Regions from separate parts of the Homo sapiens genome. Here region 2 is reported to be linked to region 1. The links are microRNA targets in miRTarBase. Many come from high-throughput screens and were not tested one by one. Region 1 holds a microRNA gene; the other region holds the end of a gene's coding sequence.
What was found. Region 1 holds the annotated microRNA hsa-miR-4753-3p (UUCUCUUUCUUUAGCCUUGUGU, at 1,118-1,139, opposite strand). A microRNA usually pairs through its seed, bases 2 to 8, with sites in the 3' UTR of a target mRNA and lowers its output. Matches are read on the target gene's strand: a 7mer-m8 pairs with bases 2 to 8, a 7mer-A1 pairs with bases 2 to 7 and ends in A, and an 8mer does both.

Region 2: miRTarBase lists FZD2 as a target of hsa-miR-4753-3p. Seed matches in the 3' UTR shown: 8mer at 3,551-3,558.

The regions. Positions count from the first base shown.
Region 1 is chr1:235,188,923-235,192,989 of GRCh38, forward strand. MIR4753 (microRNA 4753) reads right to left here and starts at 1,194; the gene lies at 1,112-1,194. The region is part of intron 19 of ARID4B (AT-rich interaction domain 4B); the gene reads right to left.
Region 2 is chr17:44,559,005-44,563,070 of GRCh38, reverse strand. FZD2 (frizzled class receptor 2) reads right to left here. Exons shown (of 1, transcript NM_001466.4): 1 at 1,809-4,066. The coding sequence ends at 3,685. Among named protein-coding and RNA genes, the nearest start is that of FZD2, 3.6 kb to the right of the region's middle.

The sequences.
Region 1 (4,067 bases):
AGAGCTCAAAACAACAACACAGAAAAAAGCAAATTAGAGGTAACTGAAAAAACCAAAAATTATAAAATCCTTTGAAAGATCAAAATCCGAAAGGTAAGGTATTGCATCCATCTATAAGAACAGAGTGGTACAAAACACACAGAAAACAGAGCTCTTGAAAAATTAAACTAGTTTAATTTAAAAATATTCATTGAAAGGCTGGGCGCAGTGGCTCACGCCTATAATCCCAGCACTGTGGGAGGCTGAGGCAGGTGGATCACAAGGTCAGGAGTTCAAGACCAGCCTGGCCAAGATGGTGAAACCCCATCTCTACTAAAAATACAAAAAATTAGCTGGGTGCGGTGGCAGGCGCCTGTAATACCAGCTACTCGGGAGGCTGAGGCAGGAGAATCGCTTGAACTTGGAGGGCAGAGATTGCAGTGAGCCGAGATCATGCCACTGCACTCCAGCCTAGGCAACAGAGTGAGACTCAGTCTCAAAAAAAAAAAAAAAAAAAAAAAAATCATTGAAAACTTAAACATTACAGCAAAAAGTCAACAAAAGGATTAAAAGACAAAGCAGATAAAATTTCAAAGAAATAAAAAGACAAAAAAATTAATAAAAAGCAAGAAATTAAAAGGTGAGCATATTAGAGTATATTACAGAAGGTATAATATCAAATAATGGCTGGCCAAAGAAAGATAACAGCCAAGTGCAGTGTCATGCACCTATACCCCAGCTACCCAACTACTTGGGAGGCTGAGGCAGGAGGACTGCTTGAGCCCAGAAGTGTGAGAACAGCCTGGGCTGAACATAGTGAAACACAGTCTCAATTAAAGAAAAAAAAAAATTTGGCAGGGCTGGGACAGTAGCTCATGCCTGTAATCCTAGCACTTTGGGAGGCTGAGACAGGAAAATCGCTTGAGCTCAGAAGTTTGAGACCAGCCTGGGCAATATAGTAACACCTCATCTCAAAAATAGTAACAATGAACAAAAATTAAAAAGGAGAGAACAGTAAAATGCAGGAGAGGAAATCATCAAGAAAATCATTCAAAAAAACTGCCTAGAACAGAAAGACAGAAGTTGCTAGAATGAAAGAGTCTAGCAAGTAGGCATCACAGGGGATGAAAATATATCTACACAAGGCTAAAGAAAGAGAACAGCCAAGTGTACTGTGGATATATCTGTTCTCTTCCTTTGGCCTTGTGTAGATATATTTCAGAGTTAAATTTCTGGATACGAAAAACAAAGATTCAAGATTCCTAGCAGGGCATGGTGGCTCATGCCAGTAATCCCAGCACTTTGGGAGGCTGAGGTGAGTGGATCACTTGAGGTCAGCAGTTCGAGACCAGCCTGGCCAAAATGGCAAAACCCCATCTCTACTAAAAATAGAAAAACTAGCCAGGCGTGGTGGCAGGCCCCTGCAATCCCACCTACTCGGGAGGCTGAGGCAGGAGAAACACTTGAACCCAGGAGGCAGAGGCTGCAGTAAGCCAAAATTGTGCCACTGCACTCCAGCTTGGCCAACAGAGTGAGATTCCATCTCAAAAAAAGAAAAGAAAAAAAAAAGATTCCAGAGACAGAAAAGCAAAAAATAAAGAATAAAACAAGTCACATACAAAGAATCAGGAATTGGAAGAGCTCTGGACTTCACAAAAGCAATACTGGAAGCAAAAAAACAATTCAACACTGCCAATAAAATACTGAAGGAAAAACTTCCAATCCAGCCAAACTATGAATAGAATAAAGATATTTGCAAAAATAAATACAGATATTTAAATGCAGCCAATCTCTAAAAATTCCATCTCATGCACTTGTTCTTTAGAAGCTACTAGAGAATGTGCTCCACCAAAATGAAAGTATGGGGGTGGGGAGGAACCTGAGATGCCAAAAACAAAGAAATCCAAGAACTACATTAAAGGAGATCCCTAGAATGGGATCTCCCTAGGAAAATAGCTGTGCAACAGATATAGAGGGAAACCAGTCCAGACTACAGCAGTGTTATTTCCAAAGAAAGTCATACTGCAGGCTATTATCATTAAGCTACCTGCTACCGCCTCTCTGTAGTCTTTGAATGCCTGAGTGACCCAGACTGGATTTTAAAATCTGTATTTATCTTGTTTCAACTATGTGTCAATGAAATTCCAGCTCTCCCTTCCATGTCTTATGTGCCACTACCTAGATCAGCTAATGACATCATTTTATCCAGCAGAAACATTCTGACCTACTTGTGAAAAATAGGGGTAAATCACCATAAGCCTAGAATGAGAATATATATAGAGTAGTCTGCTACTACGACTGAGCACACTCCCACATAACATCCACTGCGAATGTGTCACATATTCTTTTTATTTTATTTTTTTTAAGATGGAGTTTCGCTGTTGCTACCCAGGCTAGAGTGCAATGGTGTGATCTTGACTCACTGCAACCTCTGCCTCCTGGGTTCAAGCGATTCTCCTGCCTCAGCCTCCCAAGTAGCTGGGATTACAGGCACCCACCACCACACCCGGCAAAGTTTTTGTATTTTTTTTTTTAGTAGAGACAGGGTTTCACCATGTTGGCCAGGCTGGTCTCAAACTCCTGACCTCAGGTAATCTGCCCGCCTTGGCCTCCAAAAGTGCTGGGATTACAGGAGTGAGCTACTATGCCCAGCCAAATGTGTCAGATATTCTAACTGTAGTGGACCCCTAGGTTTATCAGAACTGGCTTATGACCTGTCCAACTGAATTCTCTAGAGGGGCTTTTGTAAACTCTCAGAGAAGCTAAATCTGAAATCAGAGTATGACTTAGAATCTCTATTCAGGTAACATTCTCAGAAAGCCTTCATCTGAGCCTTCTTATAAAACTAGGCTTATGCTTGTTACTCAATTTTTAAAAAACTAAAAAACAGGCTGGGTGCAGTGGCTCATGCCTATAATCCTAACACTTTGGAAGGCTGAGGCAGATGGATTGGATTGCTTGAGTCCAGGAGTTTGAGACAAGCCTGGGCAACAGGGTGAAACCCCATCTCTACAAAAACTACAAAAAATAGCCTGGCATGGTGGCACACACCTGTAGTTCCAGCTACTTAGGAGGCTGAGATGGAAAGGTCGCTTGAGCCCAGGAGGTCACTTGAGTCGTGATAGCACCACTGCACTCCAGCCTGGGTGACAGAGCGAGACTCTGCCTCAAAAACAAAAACAAAACAAAAAAACACCCTAAAAAAATGAAGTAAAATAAAAATTACTTAGGAATATAAATATAGATAATTCAATTCTGAAGAAAAGTAAAGCAAGGATTACACAAAAGTCCAGACTATAATTACTTCTGGGAGGAGACATACTACGAAGTAAAATAAAAATTACTTAGGAATATAAATATAGATAATTCAATTCTGAAGAAAAGTAAAGCAAGGATTACACAAAAGTCCAGACTATAATTACTTCTGGGAGGAGACATACTACATGTTTTAAGTAAATAGTATTTGATTGCTACTGTGGAGACATACTAGTATCCATATTATTACTGTTCTTTAAACTATACATGTATTTTCCATGCACTATTTGCATGTAGGATACATGGGAAAATTTTTTAAAAATCAATTTAAAAATATTGCCCTAATTAGTACAGTGGTGAGTAAATAAAAATATAGTACAGCATTTGGTTTATAAAATAATGAGTTAATATAAACACACATCTACAATAAGAAACAAAAACTAGCTTCTATTAACATTCAAAATAAGTAAAAATGAAACCTCTTTTAAGTTATGAGAAATGATAAGATATTTTTATGGAGATCCATTCTTTTATCTCATAGATATGTCCCCTTCCCTGCCAGTCAGATTTAATAAATCTCTGCTCCAATCCTCATTGCTTTTATTACCTATACTTCATTTTGCCTTAAATACTAAGCAATAATCCCATCATAAAAGAGGTCATGTCAGGCCAGGCGCGGTGGCTCACGCCTGTAATCCCAGCACTTTGGGAGGCCAAGGTGGGCGGATCATAAGGTCAGGAGATCCAGACCATGGTGAAACCCCATCTGTACTAAAAATACAGAAAATTAGCCAGGCGCAGTGGCGGGCGCCTGTAGTCCCAGCTACTCAGGA
Region 2 (4,066 bases), not on the chromosome of region 1:
GATCCATTTAAGGTAAGAAGAGTGATTCTAGAGGAGGAGGGACCCTGGTACAGTGAGTAGCAAGACTGCAGAAGGGAGGGCTCGCCCGGCTCAGACCCCATGGCAGGCACCCCCGGGACAGCATCTCCCCACCCTCCTGAAGAGATTTTGGAACAAAAAGCAGTTCCCCATCCCACTGGGCTGAACCTAATCTTAATTCTTTGGGGATGTTCAGAAGAATTTTGTCTTGAGAAACTTTAGTGGCCTTTTTCTAGAGCTAGCTCTTCAAAAAATCTTAAAGGGCAAAAAGTTTGGAACTAACGTTAAAGTCTTCTGGAGGGAAGTCTGGGCTGGGAGGAGGGAAAGCCTGATCAATAAGAGGGGGGAGTCTGGAGGAGAAATGCCTGGGACCTTGAAACCCCAGACCATTGCCCTGGGGGAGGGCAGAAGAGCAGGCAGAAAGCAGCGTGGGCCTGAGACCTGCCCCAGGCCCAGGTGCCACAGGTGAGTGTATTTCCTTCTTGGCCCTGACCCTCCAGCAAACACAAAGCCTCGCTCTTCCAGAGGGAGGGACCAGCCCACTTACAACATGGAAACCCTTTTCTGCTCAAAGGACGACCTAGAAATCTCCAAAAGCAGATCTCTAAGCTCCTGTTTTTAACTGGGTTTTCTGAACAAGGGAGCTGAGGTGCCCTCTCCCGTGAGGCAGTGAGTTCAGGTGGTTTACCTCTGAGTCTTCCTCCAGGGTGCTTTCTCCTCTTTACCCCAAATTCCCCAAACTGTGGTCTAAAGCTTCCCTTCCTCTAAGAGTGTTTCATTTAAGAAACAGGACAAGGGTGTGGAGAGGAGGGTTCCCCCACAACAATTTTCAGTAGGGTAATTCAGCCCTTGGCTACTCCCCCTGAAGAAGGGGAAGGGTATCTCTAAGATCTGTTCTTTCCAAAAGATGGAACTGTCTTATTATCTGTCTTCCTCCTCAGTCATATAATCTATTTTGTCAGTGTCTCAGGCTCTCTTCCTTTATGTTGGCAGGAGACTTTGAGGAGGGGGTTGCTCAGTGCGAGGGTCCAGGGACAAATGTACCCAAAGCACACAGAGCCAAGATCTTGGGTGGCTTATAGGTGGGAGAGGCTCTCCCCAATCTTCAACAGAGACCAGCTCCTCTTCCCACTGAGCTCAATACCAGGTACTGGAAAATCCCACCTGATTCTCTGGCTTTTCCCATTATTACAAGGAGAGGCACTCACAATTTGTTTGTAATTTTACTCTTTCCTGCAGCCTTTGCGGGGTCCCTTTAGAATCCTGCAACAAATGGAGCCGGGGGCGGTGACACCTCCTCCCGCCTGCTTCTTTGATAATTGAGGGAACCTCATGTTGAGATCTCACACTTGTCATCATTTGATAAAAAGCTAGGTTTAACTGGCCACTGACACAGATGATTTGGGGGGAAATTATATATTTTTGGGAGGGGGCGCTGCTGAAATCCACAGGCTTCATACAATTCCAAACAAAGCCCCACATATCACTTCAATTACCACCAAACATTTCCAGTTCCCCTCCCCCAACATAAACTAACACAAGCAAACACTTCGAAGTAGGGGTTCTAACTTAACTTTCTCCCTTGTCCGGAAGACAGCCAACAAAGGGTGGTAAGGCACCATTTCTCCCATCACCATTTAGCTAAGAAAGCAAGGTCCAGGGCTGGGAGCACTCTTCTCTGCCCCACCCCCAGCCAAGTAGGTAAGGGAGAGAGGGGAGGAGGAGGTGTGGTTTGGTTAAACTAATAAAATGTTACAACCCTGTTAAATACAATTAAAAGGATAGATCTCTCAAAGATAATTAAATGCACTTTATTATTATGATTATTAGCTTTTAATTTACACTGTTAAGAAATGGAAGATGGCGAAAACTGAGTTATGTGGCATACTTGTATTCAAACTAATCCTTTGGAATTAAAATTCTAAAATATTCCAAATAGTTGAGGGAAATAATATGTGTTGGAAACTGGAGTTCTCACACCAGCAAAGATACTTTTAGACATCACTTCTCAGGAAGTTAACTTAAGAGAAGTCTTGACAGGCCAGGCACTGTGGCTCACTCCTGTAATCCCAGCACTTTAGGAGGCCGAGGCAGGCAGATAACGAGGTCAGGAGTTCGAGACCAGCCTGGCCAATATGGTGAAACCCTGTGTCTACTAAAAATACAAAAATTAGCAAGGAGTGGTGGCGTGCGCCTGTAGTCCCAGCTACTTGGGAGGCTGAGGCAGGAGAAACGCTGCAGTGGAGGTTGCAGTGAGCCAAGATCGCACCACTGCACTCCAGCCTGGGCGACAGAGCAAGACTCCGTCTCAAAAAAAGAAAAGTCTTGACTTTATTTGTAGGGGCTCAGGGGAAGATAAGAAACATCTGCTTTAAACATCCTATCAATCTTGTGATATAGAATGTAATGTAAACACTCAACCCACCCCCACAGCCACAAAGGGCCTATCCAGAGACTTCTTCTAAAGCAAAGATACCACCTTTTTTTTTTTTTTCATTTTTTTCTGGACAAATTTTAAATAAACCAGTCTTTTTCTCAAAGGAAAACTAAAAAGCCCACCAGCCCATCAGTCCCCTCCCTCCAACCCACCCGTCTTTATCACTTTTTGAAAAAAATAAGCCCCAAACAACAACAAAAACCCACACAAACCAACCCAGAAACTGCTAACCTGAACGCCAGAGATTTTTGGCTGCGGGAGTGAATAGACTGCAGGGAAAGAAGGGAAGAGATGCTAGGAGGTCTCAAACTCCCCAGATTTGCAAACAAGTGCTCAAAGGCGAATGCTTCCCCTAGACATGAAGGGAGGCAGGATCAGTACTCCTGGTGGGGTGTATGTTGGTGGGGGCTGTTTCAAAACACACTTCAAAAAGCATTTTTGGGCCACTGGAAGCACTTGGTGCAGCGAATTGAAAAGAAGAGAAGCCAGACAGGAGAAAGATCTTCCAGCCTGCAGGGGAATGGGCCAGGGGGTGGAAGCCATTCCTCACCGGATCTCTGCCCTCTCCCCACCAGCACACCCCGACCCCGATTTTTTTTTCCACGTCTTCATCTCTGTTGGGACTTTTCCAAGAGTGAGTGAAGAAGACAGGACAAATGAGTAGGGAAAGAAAAGGGGGAAGGAAACAAAACGAATCCAAGTCCTGTTCAAAAATATCCAACGGCTTCCACAGGCCCAGCGTCAGAGAGGAGGCTCACAAATTTGGCTTTTATATTAGTTGAATGGAACAAACTCCTAACGACTCAAAGCCAACAAAAACAGCGCTCAGGCTGGGTGCCTCTCCCATCAGGCCCAGCCCTGCCATATCACCAAAAAACTCCAAAAGTGGGGCGGGTTTTGAAGGGCACTTAAGAAAGAGAACCCTCCCCCCAACTACACTCCCCAACACACACACACCTCATTCTTCAGTCCTGGCGCCCACACCCCTGTTTTTTTTTCTCCTTTTTTCTTTTAAATAGAAAATATATATAATTAAATTTACAAAGACTATTTACAGTTTTAATTACAAACCTTGTGGGGGTGTTGGGCAGAGAGTTCTCTTTTAAAAAGCAACCTAAAAGTGAAATGGTTTCGATCGTTTTTTATTTAAAAAAATAAAATACGGAGTCTGTAGGGGCCCCACCCCGGGCGGAGGAAAGCGCCGCGCGGTTCCGGCCTGGGGGCGTCCCTCACACGGTGGTCTCACCGTGTCGGCTGTTGGTGAGGCGAGTGTAGAACTTCCTCCACGAGTGCAGCGTCTTGCCCGACCAGATCCAGAAGCCCGACGTGATGCCCACGATGAGCGTCATGAGGTATTTGATCATGTAGACCGTGAAGTCGGGCGACATGCGCGGCGTGTAGTGCGCCGGGCACGGGATGGCCAGGCTCTTGCAGTGCTGGCTCACCCACGAGCGCTCCCAGTGCTCGCGGAAGGCCTGCTCGTAGAAGTAGCAAGCGATGACGATGGTGGCGGGCACTGTGTAGAGCACGGAGAAGACGCCGATGCGCACCATGAGCCGCTCCAGCTTTTCGGTCTTGGTGCCGTCGTGCTTCATGATGGTGCGGATGCGG